3 separate regions of the Homo sapiens genome follow, and all the other regions are linked to region 3. The links come from fine-mapping of genetic effects on gene expression. A gene starts in region 3. Each other region holds a variant in brackets. All regions are shown on one strand. Distances are between the middles of the regions.

Evidence for each region. PIP is the estimated chance that this variant, and not a neighbour inherited with it, causes the effect.
Region 1: its variant is fine-mapped to the expression of AP3S2 in whole blood (TOPMed, PIP above 0.99).
Region 2: its variant is fine-mapped to the expression of AP3S2 in whole blood (INTERVAL, PIP above 0.99). The same link has a PIP of 0.9 or more in esophagus muscle.

The regions. Positions count from the first base shown.
Region 1 is chr15:89,809,970-89,820,337 of GRCh38, reverse strand. It overlaps ANPEP (alanyl aminopeptidase, membrane), which reads left to right and starts at 5,486. Exons shown (of 21, transcript NM_001150.3): 1 at 5,486-5,566. RefSeq lists cis regulatory regions at 5,103-5,105, 5,123-5,152, 5,151-5,154, 5,062-5,190, 5,442-5,447, promoters at 5,062-5,550, 4,396-5,550 and an enhancer at 5,418-5,917. The variant T/C (reference allele first, on the strand shown) is at 5,451.
Region 2 is chr15:89,865,502-89,875,869 of GRCh38, reverse strand. It overlaps ARPIN-AP3S2 (ARPIN-AP3S2 readthrough), which reads left to right. Exons shown (of 10, transcript NM_001199058.2): 8 at 4,324-4,395. AP3S2 (adaptor related protein complex 3 subunit sigma 2) reads left to right here. Exons shown (of 6, transcript NM_005829.5): 4 at 4,324-4,395. Among named protein-coding and RNA genes, the nearest start is that of MIR5009, 13 kb to the left of the region's middle. The variant G/C (reference allele first, on the strand shown) is at 4,460.
Region 3 is chr15:89,888,444-89,898,811 of GRCh38, reverse strand. AP3S2 (adaptor related protein complex 3 subunit sigma 2) reads left to right here and starts at 4,818. Exons shown (of 6, transcript NM_005829.5): 1 at 4,818-4,931; 2 at 9,672-9,763; 3 at 10,180-10,291. The coding sequence starts at 4,863. ARPIN-AP3S2 (ARPIN-AP3S2 readthrough) reads left to right here. Exons shown (of 10, transcript NM_001199058.2): 6 at 9,672-9,763; 7 at 10,180-10,291. ARPIN (actin related protein 2/3 complex inhibitor) reads left to right here. Exons shown (of 6, transcript NM_182616.4): 6 at 1-3,806. It also overlaps the pseudogene RNU7-111P. RefSeq lists enhancers at 3,536-4,283, 4,638-4,787, 5,780-6,529.

The sequences.
Region 1 (10,368 bases), 78 kb after region 3:
GACCTTTTTAGGACATTATTGATATTAATCTGTTGTTGTTTATATGTGTTGCAAATATTATTGTCCAGTGTAATATTTGGCTTTTGCCATACAGAAGTTTGTATATATTTAAGTTTTCCTTTTGTTATGGAAATTTGAAAACACACTAAAAAATAACAGTAATAATGAACCCTCAATATACCCATCTCTGAGAGTCAACAGTTAGCAACATATAGCTAATTTTCCCCTGTTATGGAGGGTTCTTTTTGACTTTGCTTGTGGTGGTTGTGCAATGCAGAGATTTTTACCTTTATGTAGTCAACTGTAGCGGTCTTTTCATTTGTGGAGTATGGATTTCATATACCTAAAAAGGTCTTCCCACTCCACGATTATTAGCAAAACAAAACAGAAAGTACTCTTTCAATACTTCTAAAATATGATTTATTATTATTATTATTATTATTATTATTTTGAGACAGAGTTTCGCTCTTGTTGCCCAGGCTGTAGTGCAGTGGCGCGATCTCGGCTCACCGCAGCCTCTGCCTCCTGGGTTCTAGTGATTCTCCTGCCTCAGCCACCTGAGTAGCTGGGATTACAGGCATGCGCCACCATGCCCGGGTATTTTTGTATTTTTAGTAGAGATGGGGTTTCTCCATGTTGGTCAGGCTGGTCTCGAACTCCCGACCTGAGGTGATCCACCTGCCTCGGCCTCCCAAAGTGCTGGGATTACAGACGTGAGCCACCGCGTCCAGCTATGATTTATTGTTTTTAGAATGGTAGCATAGTACTTTTTTCATATAGAAGCCCATAATTTATTTAACCAATCCTCCATTACTGAACATCTAATTGTTTCTGATTTTCCCCTATTTTAAATCATGCTGTATTGAGCATTCCTGACTTCTCCACCCCTTCTGGATTAGGTCAAAGCAAACCTGAGACATCAAATCATTTCATCCACAAATATAAGTTTATAATTTTTATTTATTTTTTTTTTGAGAAAGAGTTCTGCTCTTGTCGCCCAGGCTAGAGTGCAATGGTGCGATCTCAGCTCACTGTAATCTCTGTCTCCTAGGATCAAGTGATTCTCCTGCCTCAGCCTCCTGAGTGGCTGGGATAACCGGTGCCTGCCACCATGCCCGGCTAATTTTTGTATTTTTAGTAGAGACAGATTTTCACCGTGTTGGCCGGGACTCCTGACCTCAGGTGATCCACCTGACTCAGCCTCCCAAAGTGCTGGGATTGTAGGCATGAGCCACTGCGCCCAGCCAAGTTAAAAAAAGTTTTTAAAATAGAGATGGGGTCTTGCTATGTTGCCTTGGCCTCAATCGATGCCCCTGCCTCGGCCTCCCAAAGTGCTGGGATTACAGATGTGAGCCACCTCACCTGGCATTCAAATTTTTATATTATAGCCAGGCGCAGTGGCTCACGCCTGTAATCCCAACATTTTGGGAGGCCAAGGCAAGTGGATCACCTGAGGTTGGGAGTTTGAGACCAGCCTGACCAACATGGAGAAACCCTGTCTCTACTAAAAATACAAAATTAGGTGGGTGTGGTAGCACACGCCTGTAATTCCAGCTACTCGGAAGGCTGAGGGAGGAGAATCGCTTGAACCCAGGAGGCGGAGGTTGCAGTGAGCCAAGATTGCGCCATTGCACTCCAGCCTGGGCAACAAGAGCAAAATTCCATCTCAAAAAAAAAATTATATTATAAAGCCTGTTAATCTTCTGGTCTTTCGTCTTCACTTTTAATTTTATTTATATTTTGATTAGACACGGTATTCACATGGTTCAAGATTCAAGAGAACAAAAGGATATGCTGAAAAATGCGTTTCCCACCCTGTTCTCCAGCTCCAGTTTCCTTCCTGGGAAACAACTCGTGTTATCAGCGCGTGCACATATAAAAGCAAATTGTGTGTCTCTGTGCTTTTTCCATTTAAGTACAATTGATAAACGACTTGAACACGGCTCTGCGTCTAGGTTTTATTACTAAACAACCTGTCCTGGGGAGCGTTCTGTAAGGAGAATCCTAGTTATTTTTGATAGCCATATGCATTCCATTGCAGGGCATACAATAATCATTCATTTATCCCATCTCTATTGGTGGACATTTAGGTTGTCTCCAGCTATTAGATTGGTGCAAAAGTCATTGTGGTTTTGGCTCAATGTTGCAGCGATGCAGTGGAAAGCCTTGTGTATTCCTTTCACTTACGTGTGAGCATTATCTGTAGGATAAATTTCTGGAAGTGCCAAGTCAAACAGGACATGTGTTTATATGTTTGATAAATACTGCCCAAATATTCTCTTTTGAGGTCGAGTCAGTCTACACACCAACCAGCAATGCAGGGGGTTGCCTGTTTTCCTCCCACCCTTGCGAATAGTGTGTTACCAAACTTTTTTTTTTTTTTTTGAGACAGGGACTCACTCTATCGCTCTGGCTGGAGTGCAGTGACACGATCATGGCTCACTGCAGCCTTGACTTTTCAGGCTCAAGCAATCCTCCCACCTCATTCTTCCAAGTAGCTGGGACTACAGGCACGTGCCACCACGCCTGGCTAATTTTTTTTTTTTGGTAGAGACAGGGTTTTGCCACGTGGCCCAGGCTGGTCTCGAACACCTGGTTTTAAGTGATTCTCCTGCCTCAGCCTCCCAAAGTGCTGGAATTACAGACATGAGCCACTGTGCCTGACCTACCAAACTGCTTTTTATCTTTGCTGATCTGGTAAGTGAAGAATAGTATCTTTTGTAGTTATAATTTTCATTTTCTTAATAAGTGAGTTATTGAACATCTTTTTACATGTTTATGAGCCCATGAATTTTCTTTCTGCAGGAGCAAGCACTGTCTCTTCATCTTTTTTTTCACAGGGGGTGGACAGAGTCTCTCTCTGTTACCCAGGCTGGAGTGTAGTGGCGCAATCTCGGCTCACTGCAACCTCCACCTCCCGGGTTCAAGCGATTCTCCTGCCTCAACCTCCCCAGTAGCTGGGATTACAGGCACCCACCACCATGCCCACCCAATTTTTGTATTTTTAGTAGAGACAGGGTTTCACTGCATTGGCCAGGCTGGTCTCGAACTCCTGACCTCGTAATCTGCCTGCCTTGGCCTCCCAAAGTGCTGGGATTACAAGCATGAGCCACCACGCCCAGCCCACTTAGGCTATTTCTGATTTTCCAGTATTATAAGTAATACTGCAGTGAAAAGCCTTGCATATAAATATTCTATTTCCTTAGGCTAAATTTATTTATTTTTTTGAGACAGTCTTGCTCTGTAGTCGAGGCTGGAGTGCAGTCATGTGATCTCAGCTCACTGAAGCCTCTGCCTCCCAGGTTCAAGCGATTCTCGTGCCTCAGCCTCCCAAGTAGGTGGGACCACAGGCATGCGCCACCACACCTGGCTGATTTTTGTGTTTTAGTACAGACACAGTTTCACCAGGTTGCCCAGGCTGGCCTTGAATTCCCGACCTCAAGTGATCCACCTGCCTTACAGGCATGAGCCACCACGCCCAGCCTCTTCAGGCTAAATTTCTGAAAGTGATCTTCATTCCTAACCCCAAACTGCCCTCCAGAAAGCTGGGTTGCACTTCTGCCACAGCAGGATCTTTACTCCTCTTAAAATCTCCGCGGAGCCTGGGTGGGAGAGGCAGAGCTCCGGGGGGAAGATTCTCTCCTGGCCTGATGTAGTGTTTTCCTTGGCTTGTCAGACATGGAGGAGATTATGCCAGATATGATAGTGGAGAGAGTCAGACATGCATGAGACTGGAGAGAGAAAAAAAACAAAATAGCCTCTGAGGTCTCACTCACAGCCTACTTACTCTTACTTTACACACAATTCTATATTCCGATATGTTTGTGACCTGGTTTTTAAGAGTACAGAGCAAATTAGGAAGGAGAAGCAAGGCTGCTACCTAGAGGTACCCTGGTCCTCCATGAAGTTTCCAAAAGAAGAGCAAGTGCAAGTAAAATAATAAAACACAGCCAGTCACAAAGCCATCAATTTGGACCATGCAGTGCAAGGCTTTAACTGTCCCAAGGATTCCAATCATGGATAAGGAAGAGCTTAAATTTGATTATAAATCTGAAAGTCTGGAAGTCAGCTTGAATATTGTGGTAGACATAATCATATCCTCCTCCTCAAAAGATGCCCTGGTTCTAATGCCCAGAATCTGTGAATATGTTATGCTACCCCACGAAGGGAAATTACAGTTGCAGGTGGAATTCAAGTTGCCAATCCATTGATTTAAAATAGAAAGATTACCCTGGATTATCTGGGTAGGCCCGATGTAATCACAAAGATGCTCACCAGTGGAAGCAAGAGGCAGAACAGTTGGTGTCAGAGTGACAGATTGTGAGAGACTGGTGGGCCACTGCTGGCTTTGAAGATGGATGGGGCCACCAGCCAAGGAATGTGGGCAGCTTCTAGAAGCCAGAAAAGCCAAAGAAACAGGTTCCCTTCCAGCCTCAAGAAAGCTGTATCCCTCAACCCCCTTGCTTTTAGTCCAGCGAGACCCATTTTGGACTTCTGATTTTACAAAACTTGTAAGATAGTAAATTAGTGTTGTTTTATGTTTGTGTTACGGCAGCCACAGGGAACCAATACAAATATTATCTGGTACCGCCCATTAAAGCTGCTCAGAGACAGGGAGCCCCACCCTGGCGGGGCTCCGGTGGCTGCACAACCTCTGCAAGCAGGATCAAGATGAGAGGCGCAGGCCAGGTGTGGTGGCTCACTCCTGTAATCTCAGCACTTTGGGAGGCCAAGGCGGGCGGATCACTTGAGGTCAGGAGTTCGAGACGAGCCTTACATGGTGAAACCCTGTCTCTACTAAAACTCCAAAAATTAACCAGGCGTGGTGGCGTGCACCTGTAGTCCCAGCTACTCGGGAGGCTGAGGCAGGAGAATCGCTTGAACCCAGGAGGAGGAAGTTGCAGTGAGCGGAGAAAGTGCCACTGCACTCCAGCGTGAGCGACAGAGCGAGACTCTGTCTCAAAAACAAATAAAGGAAAAAGAAAAAAATGAGAAGCGCGTGTTCCCGACTCCGGTGCTTTTTCGCAAGGTCGTGCTACTGCGCCTTCTGAACTACGAGTCCCAGGTACCAAGAAAGTTGAATTGCGTGCTGTGGCGGGTCCGTTATCTGCACCACCCGTCTGCACGGGATGCGCTGGCTTCCTGCCCCGGATGCACAAGGCTCCCTGCGGGACACTCAGGGCGAGGCTCTGAGCCCCTCCCCCGCGGCAGATGCCGTCCAGATGTGGCCGGCGGGTCCCGCGGGCTGCGGCGACAGGGACCCCGTCGGGGGCAGCAGGAGCCCTGGTGCATCCCAGGCCCCGGGGGGAAGGCCGGGCCGTCGGAGGAGCGGAGGAGCCCTGGGGGGCTCCCGGGAAGCCGCGGGCGGACGGGGGAGGAGCCCGGGCGGAGCTGCGGGCGGGCGGCCCGCTAGGGGTGAATCGGGTGGAGTAGTGGTCGGGTCCGGTTAC[T/C]TCCCTTTAAAAAGACGGGAAAGGAGGAGTCCAGTGCTGGAGGGGCAGGGACGGCGGCGGCGCAGCTCGGAACCCGCCAGGGTCCAGGGTCCAGGTTCCAGCGCCCGGCGGCCCAGGCAAGTGGGGCGGGAGGGCGGGGGCTGCGGGCGCGGGTAGGGGTCGTGGGGCAGTTGGGTGCGCGGGAACCGAGGGAGCTGCAGACCCAGCGCTTGGCGCGTGCGGAGCTGGACTTCTGCGGCCGCGACGCCCCTCTTCCCAGATGGGTAAACTGAGGGCCAGGGAAAGCGAAGAATTCTTTTGGCCGAGCTCCCACTACGATCTCGCGGTCAAGTGGGTCCCCAGCGGGCCTCGCAGGGGTCGGAGGGGCTCCCATCTGGGGAGGGGGCCCCAGGGTGGGCGAGGGCGACGGGAGCCTGGGGAGGACGGACGGGGAGGGCGGCGGAGCGGAGCTAAGCTGCGGCGGGTGGACCCGGCTCGGCCGCGGCCACTCTGTCCCTGGTGGGTGGGGCGCGGCCGAAGGCAAAGGGCGAACCCGGCCCGCCTGTGGGGTCTCTGGCCAACACTGGGCTCAGAGGCCCTTTCTTTAACCTTAGATCTCGCTCCTCGGTCTAAAGCCTCCGCCGCAGCTCTCAGTGAAGAGGAAGGGGAACTCTAGGTGCTCAACGCCCGCGTTACAGTCGCGTTCTCCCTCGCTCCTACAACCCGGCCAAGATGCCGGGGCATGGATGGGGACCGAGGTTTGGGGGTTGTGGAGCCTATTCCACGCCCTCCCTGGTGAGCAACTGAGACAGATCCAGGGCCCCATTGCAATCCACTCTTGGTCTGGGAAAAGGTCCCCTAAACAGGGCCAATGGGATCCTTTCCCCAAATGACTCCAGAACGCACCCCCCCCCCCCAGCAGTGCGGTGGGCAGGGACGGCCCAGGTGGGCTATGTCCTGGGGTTTTGTGACTGGATCCCCACTCCTCCCCCACCTCAGCCCCTGGACTGCAACCCACCAGGCCGTGTTCGGGGGTGGTCAGAGCCCTGGTCTCAGCCAGACCTGAGGTCTGATGTGGCTTCATCCCTGAGTCTCTAAACGCCCTGGCCTTACTGGGCCTCAGTTAATTCACCTGTGAAAGGGGAGGCTTGGACCAGAGGGCCCCTCAGGGTATGTGTTTTGTGGAGGGGAGGTGGGCGTGTGGGGTAGGGGTGACCAGGAGGAAGTGGGGACAGCCTCTGTCCCACAGGAAGGCTGGCTAGCCCCAGTGGGTATGGGGGAGCTGGGCAGGGAAGAGGGTGGACTCCCCTCTCCCTGTGGGAGGGTGTGCTGGGCCCATGAGGCCCTCATCCACTCTCAGCCACCTTCCTGTGGAGCCCTAGCCTCGAAGGCCACACTATGAGTGCAAGGAGGCCACCCACAGCGCTGCTCCCGCTTCACAGGTGGGGAAACCGGCCCAGTGTCTTGAGGCAGCCCAGCCGCCTGCCCTGTGCTTCCCCCAGAGCCTTCTGGGGAATGAGACCTTCGTTACACGCTGGCGCTCCTTACACCCCTACAGCCTTTAAGCTAAGGCCTCCAGCCCCATCGCTGTAAGAATTGTATGCTAGGCATTCTGAGGACATAGATGGGGGTCCCCATGTCGGAAGGAGCCAAGGTGTTGGAACTGGGTCCAGTTCCTGGGCTGGCTCTGGTGGGAGATCTGGAACCCTATGCTGGGGCTCCTGGACAGCCCTGGAGGCATGGCATGGACAGTGTGTCAGCCGCACACCGAGGCCCTGGGGTGTCCTTATTCACATAGGCTGGCAGCCATCTATCCCTAGCCCGGGCTTCACCCCGGGTGCCTGTCACTCCTGGCCCTACAGTGGTCCCAGTCACACCTTGGAGGCAAGATGTGGGTCCTCCACAGGCCTGTGTCTGGAAGCAGCCCCCAGCACTCCCTGGCTAACAAGTTCTACTTCTGAGAACTACCCCCAGCTCCCAGCCCTGGTCTGGCCAAATGGGTGCGTGTCTTCTCCTGTGGTCTTCAACTCCCCTTGGCACGGCCACAGTAGATGTGAGGGGCTGTATGGGAGGACATTTTTAGGAGGCATATGTAGTTAAGCTGTGGAACCTGCTGCTAACTAGCTGTGTGGCCTTGGGCAAATCACTTAACCTTTCTGTGCCTCAGTGTCCTCATTTGCCAAATGGGGGTGATTATCCTGGTAGGGCACATAGTAGGTGCTCAGTTTCACCTACCATGTGTCTCACCAGGATAATCACCCCCCATTTGGCAGACAGGAGTTGCCAGGCAGGATCTGTGGCCCCACACAAACCCTATGTGTACTTCCCCCACCCACAAATGCCTCTGCTCCTTCCTCCTGTGTGCCCTGCATTGGGCTGAAGAGGCTGATGAGAGGCAACTTCCCATTGGGGCCTTCTGAGGTTCTTGCAGGAGGGGCAATGTCCAAGGCTCCCAGAGGAAGCACCCTGGGGTGATGCAGCTATGGGCGGAGGCCTCAGAAGCCTGGGAGAAAGCCAGGGGCCTGCGGGGACAGAGTGTGCCCTGGCCCAGGCCCAGCCTCGTCCCTACCCTTCTCGCTCACTGCTCCCTCAGAGCAGACAATGAGCCCCAGGTTGTCCCTGAGCTCCCAGTCTCATAGTTCACAGTCAGGGACACTGAGTGGGAGTGGGTGGGGCCTACCCAAGGACCCAGTGGTCGGGGATGGAGCATGGATAACACAGCAGCTCACCCGGCCACGGGTGCTCAGCTCTCCCGGCCACAGCCCCTCCCAGGCTCCTGGAGTCTTCATATTAGAGTAGAAAGCCTCTTGCACTTCACATCTGAGACCAAGGAGCCTCTCCCCACCCACAAGTGTGGGTGTCTTCCACACTGTGACTGTGACTTAGTTATGCCCTGGCATGATCGTTGTCAACCTTCATGTTTTTTGGTTTTGGCTTTGGTTTTAGTTTAGAAGAACTTACGTTTTCTGGACTAAAACATAGGCAGGGAAGAAATACATAAACCCATAGAAAGGCTGCTTTAGTTGAAGTGGGTTGAGAGCTCGGCTTCTACCCCGTCAAGAAATTCACAGCGAAAGGAACACATGCATTTTGCTCACTGGCAGAAAGAGCCTGCACCAAAGACAACCCGCAGGGCCAGCAACCCCAACATCATACAGGGTGGAGCAGCAGTTCCCAAAGCGGGTGCAACTGGACAGGATCCTTTTAGGAGCTACCTAGAGGAACAATTTTTTCTTTTTTTCTTTTTTTTTTTTTTTTTACTTGAGATGGAGTCTCACTCTGTCGCCCAGGCTGGAGTGCAGTGGCACGATTTCGGCCCACTGCAACCTCCGCCTCCCGGGTTCATGCCATTCTCCTGCCTCAGCCTCCCGAGTAGTTGGGATTACAGGCGCCCACCACCACGCCCGGCTAATTTTTTGTATTTTTAGTAGAGATGAGGTTTCACCGTGTTAGCCAGGATGGTCTCGATCTGCTGACCTCGTGATCCGTCCGCCTCAGCCTCCCGAAGTGCAGGGATTACAAGCATGAGCCAACACGCCCGGCCCAGGAACAATTTTTAAACCAATAGTCATGAATTGTTAATATAAATTAACACATCCAACCATGATTTTATCGCTCAGAAGGAGGCTAAGAAAGTGAATTGATTTAAAGAAAAATACGAAGTAAATAATCACAAAGGTGGATCACGAAGGTGGTTTGTGCACAGCCCAGAAGCCCAGGAAGGAATGTCGGGTAGAGAGGGTGGAACCTGTCCCGAGGATCAAGGCTCTGAAGTTCCATCCTTAACTGCTGTCTCTCATTCTTGCACTGATGCCCCATTCCACAAGCACGTGTTGCCCTCCCACTGCACGCCAGGTGTAGAGGATACGGCACACCTGGTGCTACCCTCATGGAGGCACTTGGAGGGCTGCCTGGGGGCAGCACCACTGACTTGTGTCTCCAGGGCAAGTGGGGAGTGGATGAAGCAAAGGCAGGAAGCTTTCCAGGCCCAAGGATCAGCTTGTGTGTAGGGAGGAAGGGAGAATGAAGCGGGGAAAAGCAGGTTGGATTTGAACTGAAAGAGGCCACTGGGGTGGAGCACAGAAGTGACAGGGGAGAGCGTTTGAGATGAGGCCAGAGAATCACTGGGGGCTGGATCACACAGGCCCTGTAGGTCACGGCAAGGACTGTGGGTGTTGTCATTCATTTGGCCAACATGTATTGGGCTCCTGCCTTGTGCTGGGCATGGAGGGGCATACGATGCCACCAGGCCTTCCTTTGAGGTGCTTGGGTGCAGCAGCAGGCTTTTGAACACACTGGTAGCATTTTTCTTTTTCTTTTTTTTTTTTCTTTTTTGAAACAGAGTCTCGTTCTGTTGTCGTCCAGACTGGAGTGTAGTGGCACGATCTCCGCCCACTGCAACCTCCACCTCTTGGGTTCGAGCGATTCTTCCGCCTCAGCCCCCCAAGTAGCTGGGACTACAGGCGTGCGCCACCACGTCCAGCTAATTTTGTATTTTTATTTATTTATTTATTTATTTATTTATTTTTTGAGACAGAGTCTTACACCGTCCCCCAGGCTGGAGTACAGTGGCACAATCTCGGCTCACTGCAACCTCTGCCTCCCGAGTTCAAGCGATTCTCCTGCCTCAGCCTCCTGAGTAGCTGGGATTACGGGCACCTGCTACCATGCCCAGCTAATTTTTTGTATTTTTATTAGAGACGAGGTTTCACCATGTTGGCCAGGCTGGTCTCCAACTCCTGACCTCGTGATCTGCCCACCTCAGCCTCCTAAAGTGCTGGGATTACAGGCATGAGCCACCGCGCTCAGCCTCAGTGGCATTTTCCTAAGTGCTGTGATAGAGGTGGGAACTGGAGACTGGGGAAGCGCAGAGGGGAGTGGGGGCTGGTGTGCATGATAAGGCAGTGACATTGAGTTGGGTTTTGAAGGATGAGTAGGA
Region 2 (10,368 bases), 23 kb after region 3:
CGGCTCAAGCTTCTCACCACAGCCTCCCGAGTAGCTGGAATCACAGGCACACACCACCACGCCTGGCTAACTTTTGTGTTTTTTATAGAGACAGGGCTTTGCCATGTTGCTCAAGCTGGTCTCAAACTTGTGAGCCCAAGCAATTTGCCCACCTTGGCCTTCCGAAGTACTGAGACTACAGACGTGAGTCACTGCGCCCAGCCCATTTTCAGATGAATTTAGTCCCTCTCTTCCTTTATCAGAATAATGTTCTTTGTCATTATGCTCCTCAGAAGTGTATTTCTTAGAGGATTTGTTGTAGGATTCCTGTCTTCTTGCCTCATCATGAAATAGGCTTATTATTTTCCTACCTGAGTCTGCAATGTCTTCAGTTCAGCCTCTTTGCCCATCAGCATGCGCTTTGTGTTTTCGTCCTTCGTTTTCTTTCTTGTTTTCTTTCTCTTGACCTTGATTGTGATCTTGAATAATATTTTGAGTAAGAAAAACAGATGCATCTGACAGTTCTTTTTCCACCCACTATCTGGGGATGTCTTTTTCTGGGGCTAGTCCATCTTGTCCTGGATAACTACCCTATCTTGAGAACCCAGTCTTAGTTTCATGAAACATCTTTAATGAAAACAGCCTTTTGGGATGGTGCTGCTGCAAACTGTGGTCTGGCTCTCCTCGCATGTGCTCTGGCTGCCGCAGAACAGAGCTCAGGCCGCTAGGGGGCACCTCCACGTGCCGCTTTTAGCAGTACCAGCCACCTCAAAGCTTTGCCACAGACTGAATAGCTCCTTCCGGGGGCCTGGATGGCACCCAGGGGATCTGCCGTTGCTTTTTTAATTTATTTTTTTACATTTAGCTCATTAATATCTGTTAGATATTTTTATGTCTGCATTGAAATATGTAACTTTATTTTTCCCCCAAAGGATAACTGTTCCAACATTATCAGTTAGCTTGTCTTTTCCCCACCAACTTAAAATACGACTCTTATTTTTAAAATTGCATTTTATAAACATGTATGTTTCAGTAATTTATATTCTGCCCCACTGATCTATATTCCCATCTTAGAATTATACTTTTATTTTATTTTTAAAATTTATTTAGAGACAAGGTCTTGGTATGTCACTCAGGCTGGAATGCAGTGGTGCAATGATAATTCACTGCAACCTTGAATTCCTGGGCTCAAGCAATCCTCCCACCTCAGCCTTCCAAGTAGCTGGGACTACAGGTGTGTGCCACTATGCCTGGCTAATTTTTTTATTTTTATTTTTTTGTGGAGACGATGTTTTGCTATGTTGCCCAGGCTGGTCTCAAACTCCTGGGCTCGAGGGATCTTCCTGTCTTGGCTGCCCAAAGTGTTGGGATTATAGGCATGAGCCACCTCACCCAGCCTTAGTATTATACTATTTTAGTTAACAAAGCTTTACAATGAATTTTGATACCTAGAAAGACTGCACCCAGGTGAAATAAACAGCCTTGTTTCTCACACAAAGCCTGTTTGGTGGTCTCTTCACATGGACACGTGAGACAGATTTCGCTAGGGAAGCAAATAACCATGGAGGTGGGCAAGAAATATCCATGATTGTAGAGCTTTCAATCAGCCTTTTATTCTTGTAACAAATGAAAAACAAAGGATTATCAGACATCTGCGGAAAACCTCTAACATAGAAGAAGGAGATAAAATGAACAAACAATAAAAAGCAACTTAAAAATGGACACCATATAAAGAAAGGAAAACAGTTTAAAAAAAAAAAAAACCCAAAACCCTATTCTTAAGCTACAGAGAAAGCCTGGCCAACATGGTGAAACCCTATCTCTACTAAAAATACGAAGTATTTTAGCCAGGCATGGTGGCACATACCTGTAGTCCCAGCTGCTCAGGAGGCTGAGGCAGGAGAATCACCTGCACCCGGGAGGCTGAGGCTGCAGTGTTCTGAGATCACACCACAGCACTCCAGCCTGGGTGACAGAGTGAGACCTTGTCTCAAAAAAAAAAAAAAAAAAAAAAGCCACAGAGAAATAAGACATTTATTTTAAATAATAATAAGACCCATTTATTAATTAGAAATAAAATAAGACCCATTTATGTCTTATTGCTAAATGGGTGCTAAACAAAAACACTCACAGCCTTGTTGCTCACACAAAATGAACAAAATGGTCTCTTAGAAATAAAAAATGAGAGGAAATGGAAACAAACAAAAACCCACTTCAACTGAAGTATTAGAAAATCAAGTTAATCAATTGTCTCAGAATGGGCAGAGATGGAAAATGGGAGAGAAAAGATGAGAAAATAAGACAGAGGCCGGGCACAGTGGCTCACGTCTGTAACCCCAGCACTTTGGTAGGCCAAGACAGGGGGATCACTTAAGGTCAGGAATTGGATATCAGCCTGGCCAACATGGTGAAACCTCGTCTCTACTAAAAATACAAAAATTAGCCAGGCGTGGTGGTGCATGCCTGTAATCCCAGCTACTCAGGAGGCTGAGGCAGGAGAATTGCTTGAACCCAGGAGGCAGAGGCTGCAGTGAGCCAAGATCGTGGCACTGCACTTCAGCGTGGACAACAGAGCGAGAGTCTGTCTCAAAAAAAAAAAAAAAAGAAGACAGACAGAGGTCCAATACTTGAATATAAGCAGCTCCAAAAAGATTGATTAGGAATGTGGAAAGGAGGGAATTCTCAACAAAATAATTCGATAAAATTTCCCAGAACTGAAGGACTTGAACTGCAGGATTATAAGGGCTTACCAAGTACCCAGCATAGTGATTGAGAAATAGACCCATTTAACTATGTGTCCTTATAGTGAAATATTCTGGCACTGTTAAAAATGTAAAGATTTATGAATGGCACTAATATGAAATTATTGTATGTGGTTTTTGGCATACATGTATATATCTGTTAGATATGTTATCTGGGAGTAGAATTCCTAGATCATAGAGCATGCATACATAATGTCATAGTTTTCCAAAATGGTTGGTATCTGGCAAAATACAGTGCACTGGTTACCAGTCTCAAGAAAGGAATCTAAATGCTCTTGCCCATTGCATCTTGGTATCAGAGTCGGCAAGGAAAAAGTGCAAACACTGGATAAAGCTTTACTTACATAGAGAAGAGACAGAGCAGGATCAGCTCCAATAGTGTGCGTTGGTTCCTCATGGCAAGTGGGTCTGTCTCCCCAGCAGCCGCTGCAGGGTGGTTTGCCTATGAGCACCCATCTTGTGCTACAGTGGAACGGTGTGCCTGGTCTCTGTCACTTGCTGGCCTCAAGTAAGACCCATTTTCATGCAGTGCCGAACAATTCATGACACTGCTGACAATGAGATTGTTTAAATGAGGTCATTGTCTGAGAGAAATTAAACAGTTATAGATAGATACCTAGGTTGTAGTTACATGGTGTGTTCATTCTGAAAATTCATTAAACTGTGCCCTTGTCATTTGTACACTTTTCTGTTATGTTTTATTAAAAGTTAAAAGGTTCTATAGAGAAGTAAGCTCAGGGCTTTTAAAAAAAAATTTTAAGTTGTAAACACGTCAATTAAATTTATTCATAGGAAGGTATTTTGTAGGCTAAATAACTGACCAAAAAAATTAAAAAGGGAAGATGTTTTGAAGTTAATTTTGGCTGAAATTAAAACACAGCTATGTTAACCCTGTAATAATGAAAAATTTTTTGTACATGTATTCATTGAGGACATAGTATTGTAAGTAGTTGGTTTTTTTAATTTGTTATTCTTTTATGTAATTTTTTTTCTTTTTTCTTTTTTTTTTTTTGAGAGACTCTCACTCTGTCACTCAGGCTGGAGTGCAGTGGTGCGATCTCTGCTTATGGCAACCTCCACCTCAAATGATTCTCATTCAAGCTATTCTCGTGCCTCAGCCTCCCAAGTAGCTGGGACTATAACAGGCTCGTGTCGCCACACCCAGATAATTTTTGTATTTTTAGTAGAGATGGGTTTTCGTCTTGTTAGCAAGGCTGGTCGTGAGCTCTTGGCCTCAAGTGATCCTCCTGCCTTGGGCTCTCAAAGTGCTGAGATTGTAAGTATGAGCCACCATGCCCTACCATAAATTAGCATCTTATAAAGGGGGAAAGAGCCACATGTGTCTGCTGGTTGTGTTGCTATGCTGAAAACAAGGTTTTCCTGTCCTAGATTATTCCCTCTAAATCGAGATAAGTAGGGTGATCAGCTAATGCTGGAGACAAAAGGTAGGTGTTTTAATTTTTGAGATTTATCATAAAGTAAATAGTATTGTGACAGCCCCTTTTACTTTCAGATGTGACATTGATAAAGCTGTGAATGTGTTCCTATTTCTCTTCTTTATCTATTTCTCCTTGTTTTCTAGGTTTTTGTGGAAACTCTGGATAAGTGTTTCGAAAATGTGTGTGAATTGGATTTGATCTTCCATATGGATAAGGTATATTCTCTTGCAGTTCTCTTCCAAACTAGGGTTACTAGAAAACCAAGAGCCTTGGGCATCT[G/C]TAGCCACCTCTACATCTTCATATTGTTTCTTGTTTTTTTTTACTCTTAAGATAGTCCTAGAACATGTTTTATTTAATAGATTTAATAGTTTGGGTTTTGTTTTGTTTTTGCTAAGATCTACTAACAGTTTTAACGTGCATAAGATTATTACTAGGCCTATATCGTGGTTCATCTGTTCACAGACTGATTTCTTGATATAGGAGAATGATGTCACTGGCTACTTGGCCAAAGGTGAGATAAATAGTTTTATGCTGATTATAAAATTAGTTTCCTAGTCATAGGCCAGTGACAATGAAACTTTGGAATAATCATGACGCAGGGGCTTTGACTTAGATAGTAAAATTTATATCTTTCCTAAAGAGTAATATAGTGACTAAGAGATCTGTAATGTAATTCAAGGTCAGGTGATATTCTATAGGAAGGTAGACTATCAGAGGCAGAATTAAAATGGCCCCAAGTAGGTGTTCTCAGATTTGTTTTGCTAGGATAACTGTGACATGGCCTATGTCCTCATATGCCAAATTAAACTTGGGCAATAGCCAGCAAGGGAATAGGAATTGCCATGTTTATTTTATTCAACTTACCACATGCTGTCCCCTGTGCAGTTTACTGGTGCGTCTTTGGTTTGCTTGGTCCTGGTTTTTCTTCAACTGATTGTTGTCATTATGATCCCTGGCCCTTGGAGAGAGATGATTTTTTAGGAGACTGCTGCTCATTGCTAAGCCATGATCCTTTATTAACCTTTTCATCATGATGAAGTAGGAGTTTTTAGATCCATCGTTGCTAGCATTGCTGTCTAAAGGACTTTCTTGTTGTTTTTCAATAGGGTCTTCAGTCTTAGTTGACTCTGTTGAGGTTGGCAGATCCCCACTTTCCAGGCTAATGTAGTGAATGCATTCTTGAGTTTGGATGACATTAGAATGGAGTAAAGTTTTGTCTCTCACCATCTGACATGGCTCTGTGACTCTATCAGCATCCTAGTGCAGGAACATCATGGAACCCTTTTCCTTCTTTAGATACTTAACTTTGGACTCCCTGACAACCTCACGGGGCTTCCAGTATTTACTGATGCTTTTGAGTCACCCTCCCTTTCATATGAAAGGGTTGTATACTTTTTGGAAACTTCAGCGATCTCTTAGCACCCTTTCTTTGCAAGCACTTAGAGTTGTTTTGTACTTTTCATATGTTAAAGATTTGCTATTTTGCAACTTCTGTCAAGGAGAGCCATAGCTCAAATCTAGTTCCCTTTTGTACTAGAGGAACTAGAGTCCCTTTCAAGTATTAAAGAGACTTGAAAATATAGGGGGAATGGAGAGGTGCCTTCTGTAGGCCTTATTGTTATGATTTTAAAATAATATTGTTAAATACAGGCCGGGCGTCGTGGCTCACACCTGTAATCCCAGCACTTTGGGAGGCTGAGGTGGGCAGATCACTTCAGGTCAGGAGTTTAAGACCAGCCTGGCCAACATGGCAAAACCTTGTCTCTACTAAAAGTACAAAAATTAGCCAGGCGTGATGGTGCACGCTTGTAATCCCAGCTATTCAGGAGAATCGCTTGAACCCGGGAGGCGGAGGTTGCAGTGAGCCGAGGTCGCGCCACTGCTCTCCAGCCTGGGCAACAGAGCGAGACTGTGTCTCAAAAAAAAAAAAACAACCAAATTGTTAAATACAAGGTGTTACTTTCGAAGTTACCACCTAGTGTGCAAAGTGGGTTCTTTGAAGATGCCACCTGTTGCTCACCAGGCTGCAAATGAATTTCTTAACATCTCAGGTGTAGATTCAGGGATTCAAGGATAGATTTTACTAGGAAAGGGGGAGTTTTCTTTTTTTTTTTTTTTTTTTATTGATAATTCTTGGGTGTTTCTCACAGAGGGGGATTTGGCAGGGTCATGGGACAATAGTGGAGGGAAGGTCAGCAGATAAACAAGTGAACAAAGGTCTCTGGTTTTCCTAGGCAGAGGACCCTGCGGCCTTCCGCAGTGTTTGTGTCCCTGATTACTTGAGATTAGGGATTGGTGATGACTCTTAACGCGCATGCTGCCTTCAAGCATCTGTTTAACAAAGCACATCTTGCACCGCCCTTAATCCATTTAACCCTGAGTGGACACAGCACATGTTTCAGAGAGCACAGGGTTGGGGGTAAGGTCACAGATCAACAGGATCCCAAGGCAGAAGAATTTTTCTTAGTGCAGAACAAAATGAAAAGTCTCCCATGTCTACTTCTTTCTACACAGACACGGCAACCATCCGATTTCTCAATCTTTTCCCCACCTTTCCCGCCTTTCTGTTCCACAAAGCCGCCATTGTCATCCTGACCCGTTCTCAATGAGCTGTTGGGCACACCTCCCAGACGGGGTGGTGGCCGGGCAGAGGGGCTCCTCACTTCCCAGTAGGGGCGGCCAGGCAGAGGCGCCCCTCACCTCCCGGACGGGGCGGCTGGCCGGGCAGGGGGCTGACCCCCCCACCTCCCTCCCGGACGGGGCGGCTGGCCGGGCAGAGGGGCTCCTCACTTCCCAGTAGGGGCGGCCGGGCAGAGGCGCCCCTCACCTCCCGGACGGGGCAGCTGGCCGGGCAGGGGGCTGACCCCCCCACCTCCCTCCCGGACGGGGCGGCTGGCCGGGCAGAGGGGCTCCTCACTTCCCAGTAGGGGCGGCCGGGCAGAGGCGCCCCTCACCTCCCAGACGGGGCGGCTGGCCGGGCGGAGGGCTGACCCCCCCACCTCCCTCCCGGACCGGGCGGCTGGCCGGGCAGAGGGGCTCCTCACTTCCCAGTAGGGGCGGCCGGGCAGAGGCGCCCCTCACCTCCCAGACGGGGCGGCTGGCCGGGTGGAGGGCTGACCCCCCCACCTCCCTCCCGGACGGGGCGGCTGGCCGGGCGGGGGGCTGACCCCCCCACCTCCCTCCCGGACCGGGCGGCTGGCCGGGCAGAGGGGCTCCTCACTTCCCAGTAGGGGTGGCCGGGCAGAGGCGCCCCTCACCTCCCAGACGGGGCGGCTGGCCGGGCGGAGGGCTGACCCCCCCACCTCCCTCCCGGACAGGGCGGCTGGCCGGGCGGGGGGCTGACCCCTCCACCTCCCTCCCGGACGGGGCGGCTGGCCGGGCAGAGGGGCTCCTCACTTCCCAGTAGGGGCGGCCGGGCAGAGGCGCCCCTCACCTCCCAGACGGGGCGGCTGGCCGGGCGGAGGGCTGACCCCCCCACCTCCCTCCCGGACGGGGCAGCTGGCCAGGCGGGGGGCTGACCCCCCCACCTCCCTCCCGGACGGGGCGGCTGGCCGGGTGGGGGGGCTGACCCCCCCATCTCCCTCCCGGACGGGGTGGCTGGCCAGGCTGAGGGGCTCCTCACTTCCCAGTAGGGGCGGCCGGGCAGAGGCGCCCCTCACCTCCTGGACGGGGCGGCTGGCCGGGCGGGGGGCTGACCCCCCCACCTCCCTCCCGGATGGCACGGCTGGCCGGATGGGGCGGCTGGCCGGGTGGGGGGCTGACCCCCCCCACCTCCCTCCCGGACGGGGTGGCTGCCGGGCGGAGCCGCTCCTCACTTCCCAGATGGGGTGGCTGCCGGGCGGAGAGGCTCCTCACTTCTCAGACGGGGCAGCTGCCGGGCGGAGGGGCTCCTCACTTCTCATACGGGGTGGTTGCCAGGCAGAGGGTCTCCTCACTTCTCAGACAGGGCGGCCGGGCAGAGACGCTCCTTACCTCCCAGACGGGGTCTCGGCCGGGCAGAGGCGCTCCTCACAACCCAGATGGGGCGGCGGGGCAGAGGCGCTCCCCACATCTCAGACGATGGGCGGCCGGGCAGAGACGCTCCTCACTTCCTAGATGTGATGGCGGCTGGGAAGAGGCGCTCCTCACTTCCTAGATGGGATGGCGGCCGGGCGCAGACGCTCCTCACTTTCCAGACTGGGCAGCCAGGCAGAGGGGCTCCTCACATCCCAGACGATGGGCGGCCAGGCAGAGACACTCCTCACTTCCCAGACCGGGTGGCGGCCGGGCAGAGGCTGCAATCTCGGCACTTTGGGAGGCCAAGGCAGGCGGCTGGGAGGTGTAGGTTGTAGTGAGCTGAGATCACGCCACTGCACTCCAGCCTGGGCACCATTGAGCACTGAGTGAACGAGACTCCGTCTGCAATCCCGGCACCTCGGGAGGCCAAGGCTGGCGGATCACTCGCGGTTAGGGGCTGGAGACCGGCCCGGCCAACACAGCGAAACCCCGTCTCCACCAAAACCAGTCAGGCGTGGCGGCGCGTGCCTGCAATCGCAGGCACTCGGCAGGCTGAGGCAGGAGAATCAGGCAGGGAGGTTGCAGTGAGCCGAGATGGCAGTAGTACAGTCCAGCTTCGGCTCCGCATGAGAGGGAGACCGTGGGGAGAGGGAGAGGGAGAGGGAGAGGGGGAGGGGGAGGGGTAGGGGGAGAGGGAGAGGGAGAGGGAGAGGGGAAAAGGGGGAGTTTTCAAAGCAAGAGAAGAGCCCATGGAGAGGTGTATTGAGGTGTCTCTGCTGGAATGACTCCCATCACCCACCTCCTCCAATGCTGTCTTTTTTATCAGGCACCTGTGAGAGTAGCTTTGCTAGTGGAGAGATAGGCAGAATGCTTAGACACCACGAAATCTGTATTTGTGTGCCAGCTGCTTATAGATGTTGTCTAGGGGCCGGGTGCGGTGGCTAACGCCTATAATCCCAGCACTTTGGGAGGCCTGAGGTCGGGAGTTCGAGACCAGCCTAACCAACATGGAGAAACCCCGTCTCTACTAAAAATGCAAAATTAGCTGGGCTTGGTGGTGCATGCCTATAATTCCAGCTACTCAGGAGGCTGAGACAGGAGAATCACTTGAACCCAGGAGGCAGAGGTTGCAGGGAGCCGAGATCATGCCATTGCACTTCAGCCTGGGCAACAAGAGCAAAACTCCATTTCAAAAAAAAAAAAAAAGGAAGTTGTCTGGGAATGCCAGCTGCCCAACACCTGGAAACTTAGGGACCTGTGGGATAATACACACCTGGAGAAGACAGCTGTAGGTGCTGTGGGAAGTTGTGCTTGGGTGCAGCCCCTCTCACTGGGAGAAGGGGTAGCCTCCCAACCCCCTAGTCTAAGCTAGTTCATTGTCTAGGCAACGTGGAGTATACCTCCATGGTGACTTTTTTTTTTTTTTTTTTTTGAGACGGAGTCTCGCTCTGTTGCCCAGGCTGGAGTGCAGTTGTGTGATCTCGGCTCACTGCAACCTCTGCTTCCCGTGTTCAAGTGATTCTCCTGTCTCAGCCTCCGGAGTAGCTGGGACTACAGGTGCCTGCCACCATGCCCGGCTAATTTTTGTATTTTTAGTAGAGACAGGGTTTCATCATATCTGTCAGGCTGGTCTCCAACTCCTGACCTCAGGTGATCCACCCACCTCAGTCTCCCAAAGTGCTGGAATTACAGGCGTGAGTGAGCCACCGCGCCCAGCCTCCAAGGTGACTTTGAAAGTCAACATTTGTTGTTTTGTGTTTTACCTTCTTTGCTCCGTGTTATTTGTAAGAATCACCCATTTTGTTACATGTGGCCTTAGGAAGTTTAATTTCATTGCTGCATAGGATTTCATTATATGAATTTATCCATTCTATGACTGATGGAATTAGATTGTTTTGAGTTTGGAGCTTTTATGAAATATGTTGTCATGAATATTCTTGAAAATGGATGCTATTGTACATTTTTGTACATTTTCTTGAAACATCTATTTCTCTTAACAGTGCAATTCCTGGGTCATAGGTGAGGCCTCTAGAAGGAAGAAACAGGCCTCTAGAAGGAAGCACAAAAGCACCAGCAGGGCTGCAGCACTGGCAAAAGAAGTCTGAGGCTCAAGGCCTCTGGACTGTAGACCATAGTATCTGCCACTTTGTTAGATAATGCCAGAGTGATTGTATCCATTTATACTTCTACCA
Region 3 (10,368 bases):
GCCCCCATGTGGCTGGTAGGGGCAGCTTTTGGAAGCTAGACTGGATCCTATTACTCCCCAGATGAAAAGTTCAAATTCCTTAATACAACTCAGAGCTCATCACAATGTCACAACCCTCCTTTCTCGGCTCGCTTCCTCCTTAAGAGCTCTGGGGCGATTCTTTCAGACCAGCCTGAGGGATCTTCCACAGGTTGTTAATAGGGCTAGAAACAAAAAGTGGTGGTGTTTCTATGATCTAATTTGTTGGAACAAACGTAGTGTTAAACTCAAACATTTCTGTAGGATTTCTTGGAGCTTTAACTATACTAACATTTACTGTAACTCTTCAGGACAGGGTATGATTACGTATTTCCCACATTTCTTTGGTCAGAGAACCCGTTTTTGTGAGGAGCATTTCATGGGACAGCTGTTGTGAGAAACAGTTTGGGAAGGGCTGTGTTGGTCCCATGGAGGGGCTGGCTGTTCCCAGAGCAGGTCACTCCCCCACTTGCATTGCCTTGCCTGGACTCTTTTCTTGGAGGGAGGTCCCTTTCCTCTACCCATCTGAATTTTTTTTTCTTCCACCAGTGTCCAGCTTGCCTTTCACCATGGGCCTAATGATGGAAATTACAGTTATTTTGTATCTTCAAACAGAACCAAGCAAATCCTCTGAGCTTCATTCATATGGGAAATTTTCTTTCTTTCTTTTTTTTTTTTTTGAGATGGAATTTCGCTCTTGTTGCCCAGGCTGGAGTGCAATGGCTCAATCTCGGCTCACTGCAACCTCCACCTCCCAGGTTCAAGAGTTTCTCCTGCCTCAGCAGGAGGATTACTGTAATCCCAAGTAGCTGGGATTACAGGCCTGCGCCACCACGACTAGCTAATTTTGTACTTTTAGTAGAGATGCGATTTCACCATGTTGGCTAGGCTGGTCTCGAACTCCTGACCTCAGGTGATCCACCCTCCTCAGCCTCCCAAAGTGCTGGGATTACAGGCATGAGCCACAGTGCCGGACATTATGGGAAAATTTTTTGAGGGACTAAACTAATCTCCACAAATAGCAATGCATTTAGGAAATATATTTAAAGGGGAAAAAAAGACTCATAGTTTCACTCAGTCATGTTCATAATTTTTAGTATTTGGGTTTTTTAGCATGTAATTTGTGTACATAGTTTTGGTTTTTGTAAACTTGCATAGGGGTTTTCTGGTACAAACTGGAAAACCTGCTAGACAAATTCTGAAACATCTGTAATGCTTGTAGGTAGTTGTTGTAACACTATGCCCACACATAATCACTTTCCATATTGCTGCATAGTCTTTGTAACCATTTTTCTTCTTCTTTTTTTTGAGATGGAGTTTTGCTCTTGTTGCCCAGGCTGGAGTGCAATGGCGCGATCTTGGCCCACTGCAACCTCTGCCTCCCGGGTTCAAGCTATTCTGCTGCCTTAGCCTCCCGAGTAGCTGGGATTACAGGCACACGCCACCACGCCCGGCTAGTTTTTGTATTTTTAGTAGAGACGGGGTTTCACCATGTCAGCCAGGCTTTTCTTGAACTTCTGATCTCAAGTGATCCTCACTCCTCAGCCTCCCAAATTGCTGGGATTACAGGCGTGAGCCACCACGCCCACCTGTAACCATTATTTTTAAGATTGCTACCATTGGATAGTTCTGTCATGGTCCAACTTTTGGATATTTAAAATTGATCCCTGTGTGGCTAACAGAATTAATGTTTCCAAAAATGTTGAAAATTATATAGTTCTCTTAATTCCCCACCTCTAACTATATTTTTGGGTTATTTCTTTAGGAACAGATGCCCAGGAGTCATATTACTGAGAATCTAGAAATCTTTTGCAAAGTTCTTGTTATATTGCCAAATTGCTTCCCAAAAGGGTTGTTCTAAACCATAATTTCACCAGCAATGTAGGGGAGAACCATTTTTATGCTGCCCTTGTGAGAATTGGGTATGAAAACATTTTTAAAATGATTTTTGATGAGGTGAAAATAATATTTGAATATATTTTAATTTGCCTTTCCCCCACTTATAGTGAGCTTAAACATTTTTTCCTTTTCCTAGCTGTATTTCTCCCTTTGTTATTCGTTCTTTCGTCCATTTATCTACTGGGGAGATGGGGAGTGTTATCTTTTTAGTTTATCAGTTATTTGCATTTTAAATATAACCATTTGCCATATTTTAACAACGATTTTTCCATTAAATAATTCTTTTTATAAAAAAACTTTATATATCTGTTGATGTTTTGTGATTTTTATTGCTTCTAAGCTAATACAGATTTTTGGATCTTATTCAATTTCGCTTTCTTCTGTTTAGGTTATTATCTGGTTTTATACCTAACTACTTATTTTCAAATTGCTAACCAGTTATCCTAATAGTATTTACTGAATTCCTTCCCACTCCTACATCACATATTAAAATTATTTTATGCCTAAATTATTTATAATATTTCAGTTATTCTTCCTATAATTACAATTTGAACCATCAAAGTAGGTTTTCATAGTTGGCAGAGCTAGTTCTTCTTCATAATTCTGTTTCAGAATTTTCTTTGATATTCTTCCTCAACATTTTAAACATTTTGTCAAGTTTCAGTGCAACTGACTTTTGGTTTTTATTTATTTAAAAACTGGGCCATGCCGGGCGCAGTGGCTCACGCCTGTAATCCCAGCACTTCGGGAGACTGAGATGGGTGAATCACTTGAGGTCAGGAGTTTGAGACCAGACTGGCCAATGTGGTGAAACCCCATCTCTACTAAAAATACAAAAATTTGCTGGGCATGGTGGCATGTGCCTGTAATCCCAGCTACTGGGGAGGCTGAAGCAGGAGAATTGTTTGAACCCGGGAGACGGAGGTTGCAGTGAGCCAAGATTGTGCCACTGCACTCCAGCCTGGGCAACAGAGTGAGACTCCATCTCAAACAAACAAACAAACAAACAAACAAAAAACTGGACTAGGCGTGGTGGCGGTTTGGGAGACTGAGGCTGGAGGATTGCCTGAGGCCAGCAGTTTGAGGTTACAGTGAGGTATGACTGTGCCACTGCACTCCAACCTGGGTAAGACCCTATCTCTGAAAAACAAACAAGCAAACCCCAGAACTCTGGCTGCAAAAGTAGTACATATTTCTTTGAAGGAAAAAAAGGAAAACTTGATAATCCTACCACCCAAAGATGTTTTTAAATCACTTATGTGGTACTCAGTTATGTGCCATGCACTGTCCAAGTGCTTACAAATATTATACTAACTCCCTTTGTGTTTATAACAACTGTCTGAAGTCAGTAGACTCATTTTCCAGTTTTCCAGTTTAGGAAACTGATATTACACCTTTTCTACAGATGGGGAAACTTGCCCAGGGTGCCCAGGCAGTCCGCAGAACCATGCTTTGAATCAGGGCAGTGTGGTTCCAGGGTCCTGTACAGATCAAACACCCTGACTCTGCCATTCCATCAGATACATGATTCATATTTTGGTGTATTTGCCTCCAATCTTGAGCAAAGTGGGTTGTCCCTGTACATACTTTGTGTAATCTTTTAGCTTAACAGGTGTCATGAACACTTCCGTATCATAAATCTTTCCCAGCATGATTTTTATTATCTATTTAATATTTCTCATATTCAATGTAGAACAATGCACTTAACCAATTTCTCATTTTTGTAATAATTTTCTTCCCATTTTCCCCTGTAATAACACTGCTGAGATATATATTTTTTTCTTCTTTTTTTTACTGTTCTGAAGATACTCTGGCAGAAATGTATGTTCCTCAGGCTAAATCTTTTCACACATCCACAATCATTTTATCATAAATTCTAGAGCTGGAAACGCTGAGTCTAATGTTTTATATATATATATATATATGTTATATATCTGTCACCCAGGCTGGAGTGCAGTGTGGTGTGATCTCAGCTCACTGCAACCTCCGCCTCCCGGGTTCAAGCCATTCTCCTGCCTCAGTCTCCCAAGTATCTGGGACTACAGGCGCGCGCCACCACAACCGGCTAATTTTTGTAATTTTAGTAGAGGCGGGGTTTCACCTTGTTGGCCAGGCTGGTCTCGAACTGCTGACCTCAAGTGAGCCGCCCGCCTCGGCCTCCCAAAGTGCTGGGATTACAGGCGTGAGCCACCGCGCCCGGACTGTTATATATTTTAAAGGCTTCTGATCCATATCGCCAAACAGTCCTCTGGATCGATTTGCATCTGTATCCGCTGCTCCATCTGCAGTATACGGACATGCTCCACTTCACCCACACTGGGTCATTAAAAGAACAAACAAAAATAAGAACTTGATCGATTTGGGATTTTAAATGGAAATGCACTAAAAATTCCTTAATTCCACCATTCACCGTCTACCATAGAGGAACAGCCCATCTGCACGGAGAGACAGCTACGTAATTCACTGCAGCATTATAATACTGAAAAATTAAAATGAACGAAATGTTCCATAACCGACGAACGGCCGAATGACCGGCGTCTCCACTCCGCGGAACGTTCTGCGAGCGCTAAGGGGATGGCGGGAGTGCATGATTTGGAGCGGGCGGTGAGAAAAGCAAGCTCCCGCCGCCTCTCCGTTTTGGCAACCCGGCTGACGGTCGTTTCGGCTTCTGGGGCCAGCCGTCGGTCTGGGCGAGGGACATAGATCCGGATTCGCATCCTGACTGGCCAACCAACGCTGGCCGAGGTGACCACTCTCCTCGGCATCCGCACCTGCCCTCCAAGGCGTCAGAGAGGCCGGACCCTTGGGTGCTAGGGCTCGTGAGCGCCGGGGCCAAGTTTCCGAGTGCCGCTCTCAGCAGCGCACCAACCGGAAGTGATCGTGTTGTGGCGGAAGGAGGAGCTTTCTGGGAGTAGCCGGTGCTGAGAGAACCGTGGCTGGCAAAGATGATTCAGGCGATTCTGGTTTTCAACAACCATGGGAAGCCACGGCTAGTCCGCTTCTACCAGCGTTTCGTGAGTGCGGCCCGGCTTCACCACGCCCCTTCAGGGCGCCCACTATGTCTTCCCTCCTCTTTGGCCTCTCGGCGCCCGGGGGCACCGCTCTTTGGTCACCTGGGGCTCCTGCACCGAGCATGACCCTCGCCCTACTTAAGCATTTAATCTAGGCGCAGGCTGGTGCCAGGCCTTCTGTCTCCCGCCCTACTGCCCCGCTCTCGCTGACCCTTTTCTTGATCCTGGCATTTCTGTGCCATTTTGTGACATTTTCCCGTGGGTCTCTGGGAACGAGATAGAAGCGACAGTGGGGAGTGTGCCTCGATGAGAACTTGAGTGATTGAAGTCACATTCTGTCATCTTTTTGGTTGTTGACCACAGTTTCATGAGGAAGAAATATTAAGTTTCTGAAAGTTTTTGTTATAGCCAGAACTGGAAAAGTTCTTTTTTTTTTGGAATTATTTTGCTTCAGTGTTGGCTGGGACTTTCCAGAGACTAGATACCCTTCACTCTTAGGGTTGAAGAAAATCAGTTTAAAAGTGGAAAAATGATGAGAAATTATAAATGCTGCCGCATAAGGGCTCAATAAGTGATTACGTAAATTTGAATTTTCCCAACACGTTCCTTTGCAAACACATAAACATCAGTATTTGCTTCCTGTCTTCGAAGATTATATTTCTTCATGGCAGGGTTTCAAAATGTTACATAATTGGGGGACTGGTGGAACTGAAGAGGGGAAAGAGCCAGAAAACGTGTTCAGGCTTCAGCTCCACCTTTTCTACTCTTGCGTCTGTTGACAAGTTAATAAACCCTTTTCAGACTTTTATTGTCTTTTGTCAATTAGAAATGAAAAAATAATTTTACTCCTTCATAAGATTTTTAAAGCTAGATTACATTTTATTAAGTAGATTACATCGAGGTAAAAATATGAGTATTCAGGCCGGGCGCGGTGGCTCACGCCTGTAATCCCAGCACTTTGGGAGGCCGAGGCGGGCGGATCACGAGGTCAGGAGATGGAGACCATCCTGGCTAACACGGTGAAACCCCGTCTCTACTAAAAATACAAAAAATTAGCCAAGCGCGGTGGCGGGCACCTCCAAGTCCCAGCTACTCAGGAGGCTGAGGCAGGAGAATGGCGTGAGCCCGGGAGGCGGAGCTTGCAGTGAGCCAAGATAGCGCCACTGCACTCCAGCCTGGGCGAAAGAGCGAGACTCCATCACACACACACACAAAAAAGTATATATATATATGTATGTATATGAGTATTCAGCGTAACTATTTGTATTTGCATTTGTGTGTATGCAAATTTCCCCCCTAGTTTTTTTCTAACAGGGTTACTGAGATAAAACTAACATGCCATACTGTTTACTTATTTATTTTATGTTATTTACTTATAGAGACGGGGTCTTTCTATGTTGCCCAGGCTGGTCTTGAACTCCTGGGCTCAAGCAATCCACCGGACTCAGCCTCCCAAAGTGCTGGGATTACAGGCATGAGCCACTGTGTCCGGCCCCAGTTTACTTATTTAAAGGGGACAATTCAGTGTTTTTTAGCATGTTCACAGAAGCTGTGTAACCATCACCACAATCAATTTTAGATCATTTTCATCACCCCAAAAAGAAACCTCTGCCCATTAGCAGTCACTCCCTATTTCTCCATGACTCTCCCAGCCCCAGAGAGTTTCTTTCCCTCTAAATTTGCCAGTTCCAGAATGGCAAATGGAATTTGCCTATTCCGTTGCCTATAAATGGAATCATAAATAAGTGGTTTTTTGTGTGTCTGCCATGTTTCATGTAGTATAATGTTTTCAAGATTCATCCATGTTGTAGCATGTATCTGATGTTCTTCATTTCTTTTATTGCTGAATAATATTCCATTATATGGATATGCCATATTTTGATTGTCAATTTATAAGTTGATATTTCTGCTTTTTGGCTCTTCTAATTAATGCTGCTATGAACATTCTTGTGCAAGTTTTTATGTGGACTTATGACTTCATTTCTCTTGGTTATATACCTAGGAGTAGAATTGCTGGATCATATGGTAACTGTGGTGAACATTTTGAGAAACTGCAAACTATTTGACAAATTTTCCAAGTGGCTGCACCATTTTACATTTCCATCAGCAATGTATAATGATTCCAGTTTCTTCACATCCCTGCCATTCGTTATTTATTTATTTATTTTTGGTTAAAGACATTTTAGTGGGTGTAAAGTGGTATCTCACTGTGGCTTTTTTTTTTCCCTCCGAGACTGAATCTCACTCTATCTCCCAGGCTGCAGTGGCGTGATCTCGGTTCACTGTAACCTCTGCCTCCCGGGTTCAAGTGATTCTCCTGCCTCAGTCTCCTGAGTAGCTAGGATTACAGGTGCCCACGACCATGCCTGGCTAATTTTTGTATTTTTAGTAGAGATGGGGTTTCGCTGTGTTGGCCAGGCTGGTCTCGAACTCCTGACCACAAGTAATCTGCCCGTCTTGGCCTCCCAAAGTGCAGGGATTACAGGCGTGAGCCACCGCACCCAGCTCATTGTGGTTTTGATTTCAGTTTCCAAAATGACTAATGATGTTGAGCATCTTTTCATGTGCTTATTGCCCATTCGTGTATCTTTGGATCATAGGATTTTTATAAGACCTCATGAGCTCATGGATGAAAGTACCTTGAAAACTACAGAGTACTAAAAAGATATGAGGGGTTATTAAAATCACTGAGGCATGTAAGCAATTGGTAGTTTACCTTTTTATTGAACTAGAAATTAGGTAGCCTCATCATTTCGTACCACTTCCCCACTGCTGCCACTTCCCCCAGAGTCAGATAAAAGGCTTTAGTTCAAAAGATGTCTTTGTCAGTTTTAAAAAGTGCTGATGCTTAGCATGTTTTGTATTTTGCATATATAGAGTTCGTCTCCTACAGCATCCTGTCATCTGTGAGCTTTGTTTGTTCTTTAAATGGAAATGAGGAAAATAGTGATTAATTTACTCAAATTTGTAGTGACCAATGATTAGCAAGTTTTCATTCAGTCAGTAAATACTGTGAGCCATTCCATACCCATGTGAGTCAAAGTAATTTCCCCACAATTACGTTTTCCCTTTTTTCCCCTCTCTGTTTCTTTTAAATAACCATTTCAAAGCTAAATTCAGGGCTATAGAAAGAAAGGGATTAAAATTACTTGAACCTATTTTCTAACTCTTGGGGCAAGTCCAATTTGAAGGTTTTCTTATGATTCGTTACTCAAAGTGTGGTCCCCAGACCAGCAGAAATGTTATTGCCTGGGTGCTTACTAGACTTGCATCTCAGGACTTAACCTATACCTGCTAAATCCGAATCTGTATTTTAACAGCATTCACAGCTGATTCATTGCAAATGAAGATTTGAGAAGCAATGCTCTAGAGCTTTAAGTTATTATCTGTCTTAATTGCTGGTTTCTCCCTCTCTTACCCTTTTAACCATACTTCTTCTGAAACTCATATGTATAATTAGAAATCAAAGGTGAGTTATCAAAGTGATTTCATCAGAGTTGAGCTTTCTTATGCACGTAGTAAGTGAAAAAATAAGGCCAGACATGGTGGCTCACACCTGTAATCCCAGCACTTTGGGAGGCCAAAGCAGGTGGATCACTTGAGGTCAGGAGTTCAAGACCAGCCTGACCAACATGGTGAAACCCCATCTCTACTATAAATACAAAAATTAGCCGGGCATGGTGGCACATACCTGTAATCTCAGCCACTGGGGAGGCTGAGGCAGGAGAATCGCTTGAACCCGGAGGTGGAGGTTGCAATGAGCTGTGATCACACCACTGCCTGGGCAACAGAACAAGACTCTGTCTAAAAATAATAATAATACATTTTATTTGTAACTGTTCAAAATTTTAATCTGTAATCTATTTTTCTCAATAATACTTTGTTGGTGAGTAACACAGCATCTTATATGTAGTATCTATATTACCAGTACAAAAGATGGCAGCTGTATTTGCCAATATAACTTTTTAAAACATTTACATGATTACTTCTTGACCTTTTTTTTTTTTTTTTTTTTTTTTTGAGATGGAGTCTCACTCTGTCGCCCATGCTGGAGTGCAGTGGCGTGATCTCGGCTCACTGTAACCTCCGCTTCCTGGGTTCAAGCAGTTCTCCTGCCTCAGCCTCCCGAGTAGCTGGGATTACAGGCATGCGCCACCACGCCCAGCTAATTGTTTTTTTGTTTTATTTTGTTTTGTTTTTTTTTGTATTTTTAGTAGAGATGGGGTTTCACCATATTGGTCAGGCTGGTCTCGAACTCCTGACCTTGTGATCTGCCTCCTAAAGTGCTGGAATTTCAGGCGTGAGCCACTGTGCCTGGCCCACATCTTGACCTTCTTAAAATGTTAGACCTGTTGAGATTTATTATATCTTTGTCATAGATGTTTTCCAGGGGAAGACAAAATATTTCAGGATCAGGCCTTCCAGTTATTCTCTGACTTTGTATGAGAGTTTATCAATGTTCCTTTTCTTGTTTAAATATCAGCTTACCTATAGGACAGTAATGGTTAGTGACTTAGATATTTAGGTAAATATACCCTATCTTAATTCCTGTATCAGAGCATTGTCACCCATCTTTCATAGATTCACTCCTATTTTTTCTCATCATTTTTATCATTTCTAGAAACAAGTACTAAATGTTTAGATGTTCCCAGCTTAGAAACACTTCTTCCCTTGTCCATCCCCATGGATGGGATGTAGTTTTTCAGGCTTGCCCACTGATTCACTTATCTTTTTGTTTCATAGCCAGAAGAAATTCAACAGCAGATTGTTCGAGAGACTTTCCATCTAGTCCTCAAGCGGGATGACAACATCTGTAACTTCTTGGAGGGTGGAAGGTAAACTGTCAGCTTCATTTTTCTCCCCATATATCCACTTGTGAGTGGCCTTCATTATTGCATCTTCTGACAGTACTCAAGTGTCAGGTGGGTACTTGATGCAACTTTAGCTGGTCTCACCATGATCTGCTCAGGGAGAGACACAATTCTCTTTGGGGCGCAGTTCAATTATTGTGCTTCTGATATTGCTCATTTAGATGATTGATCCCCGGGAGGATAGGCAGGAGAAGAGGTGAGGTAAGGTGGCTTTAGGTACCTCTGCCAAACTTGGTTGCCATTCACCTAGTAAGAATGGCCTGCTTCTAGCGTTTGGCCTTCTCCTTTCCAGTGGGTCCTTTCTCATTCTTTGGCACAAGGTTTCTTTTTGATGTGTTTAATTAAGCTGTGGGCATTTAAATGTTTCCCATCTTCTGCAGTTTGATTGGTGGCTCTGACTACAAACTGATCTACCGGCACTATGCTACCCTCTACTTTGTATTTTGTGTGGATTCCTCAGAGAGTGAACTTGGAATCTTGGACCTCATCCAGGTATGTGTAGTCAGCTAATGATGGCAGCAGCTTTAGAGAGTTTCCACGGGATTTTTGAGTAACCAGCCTGTAGAACC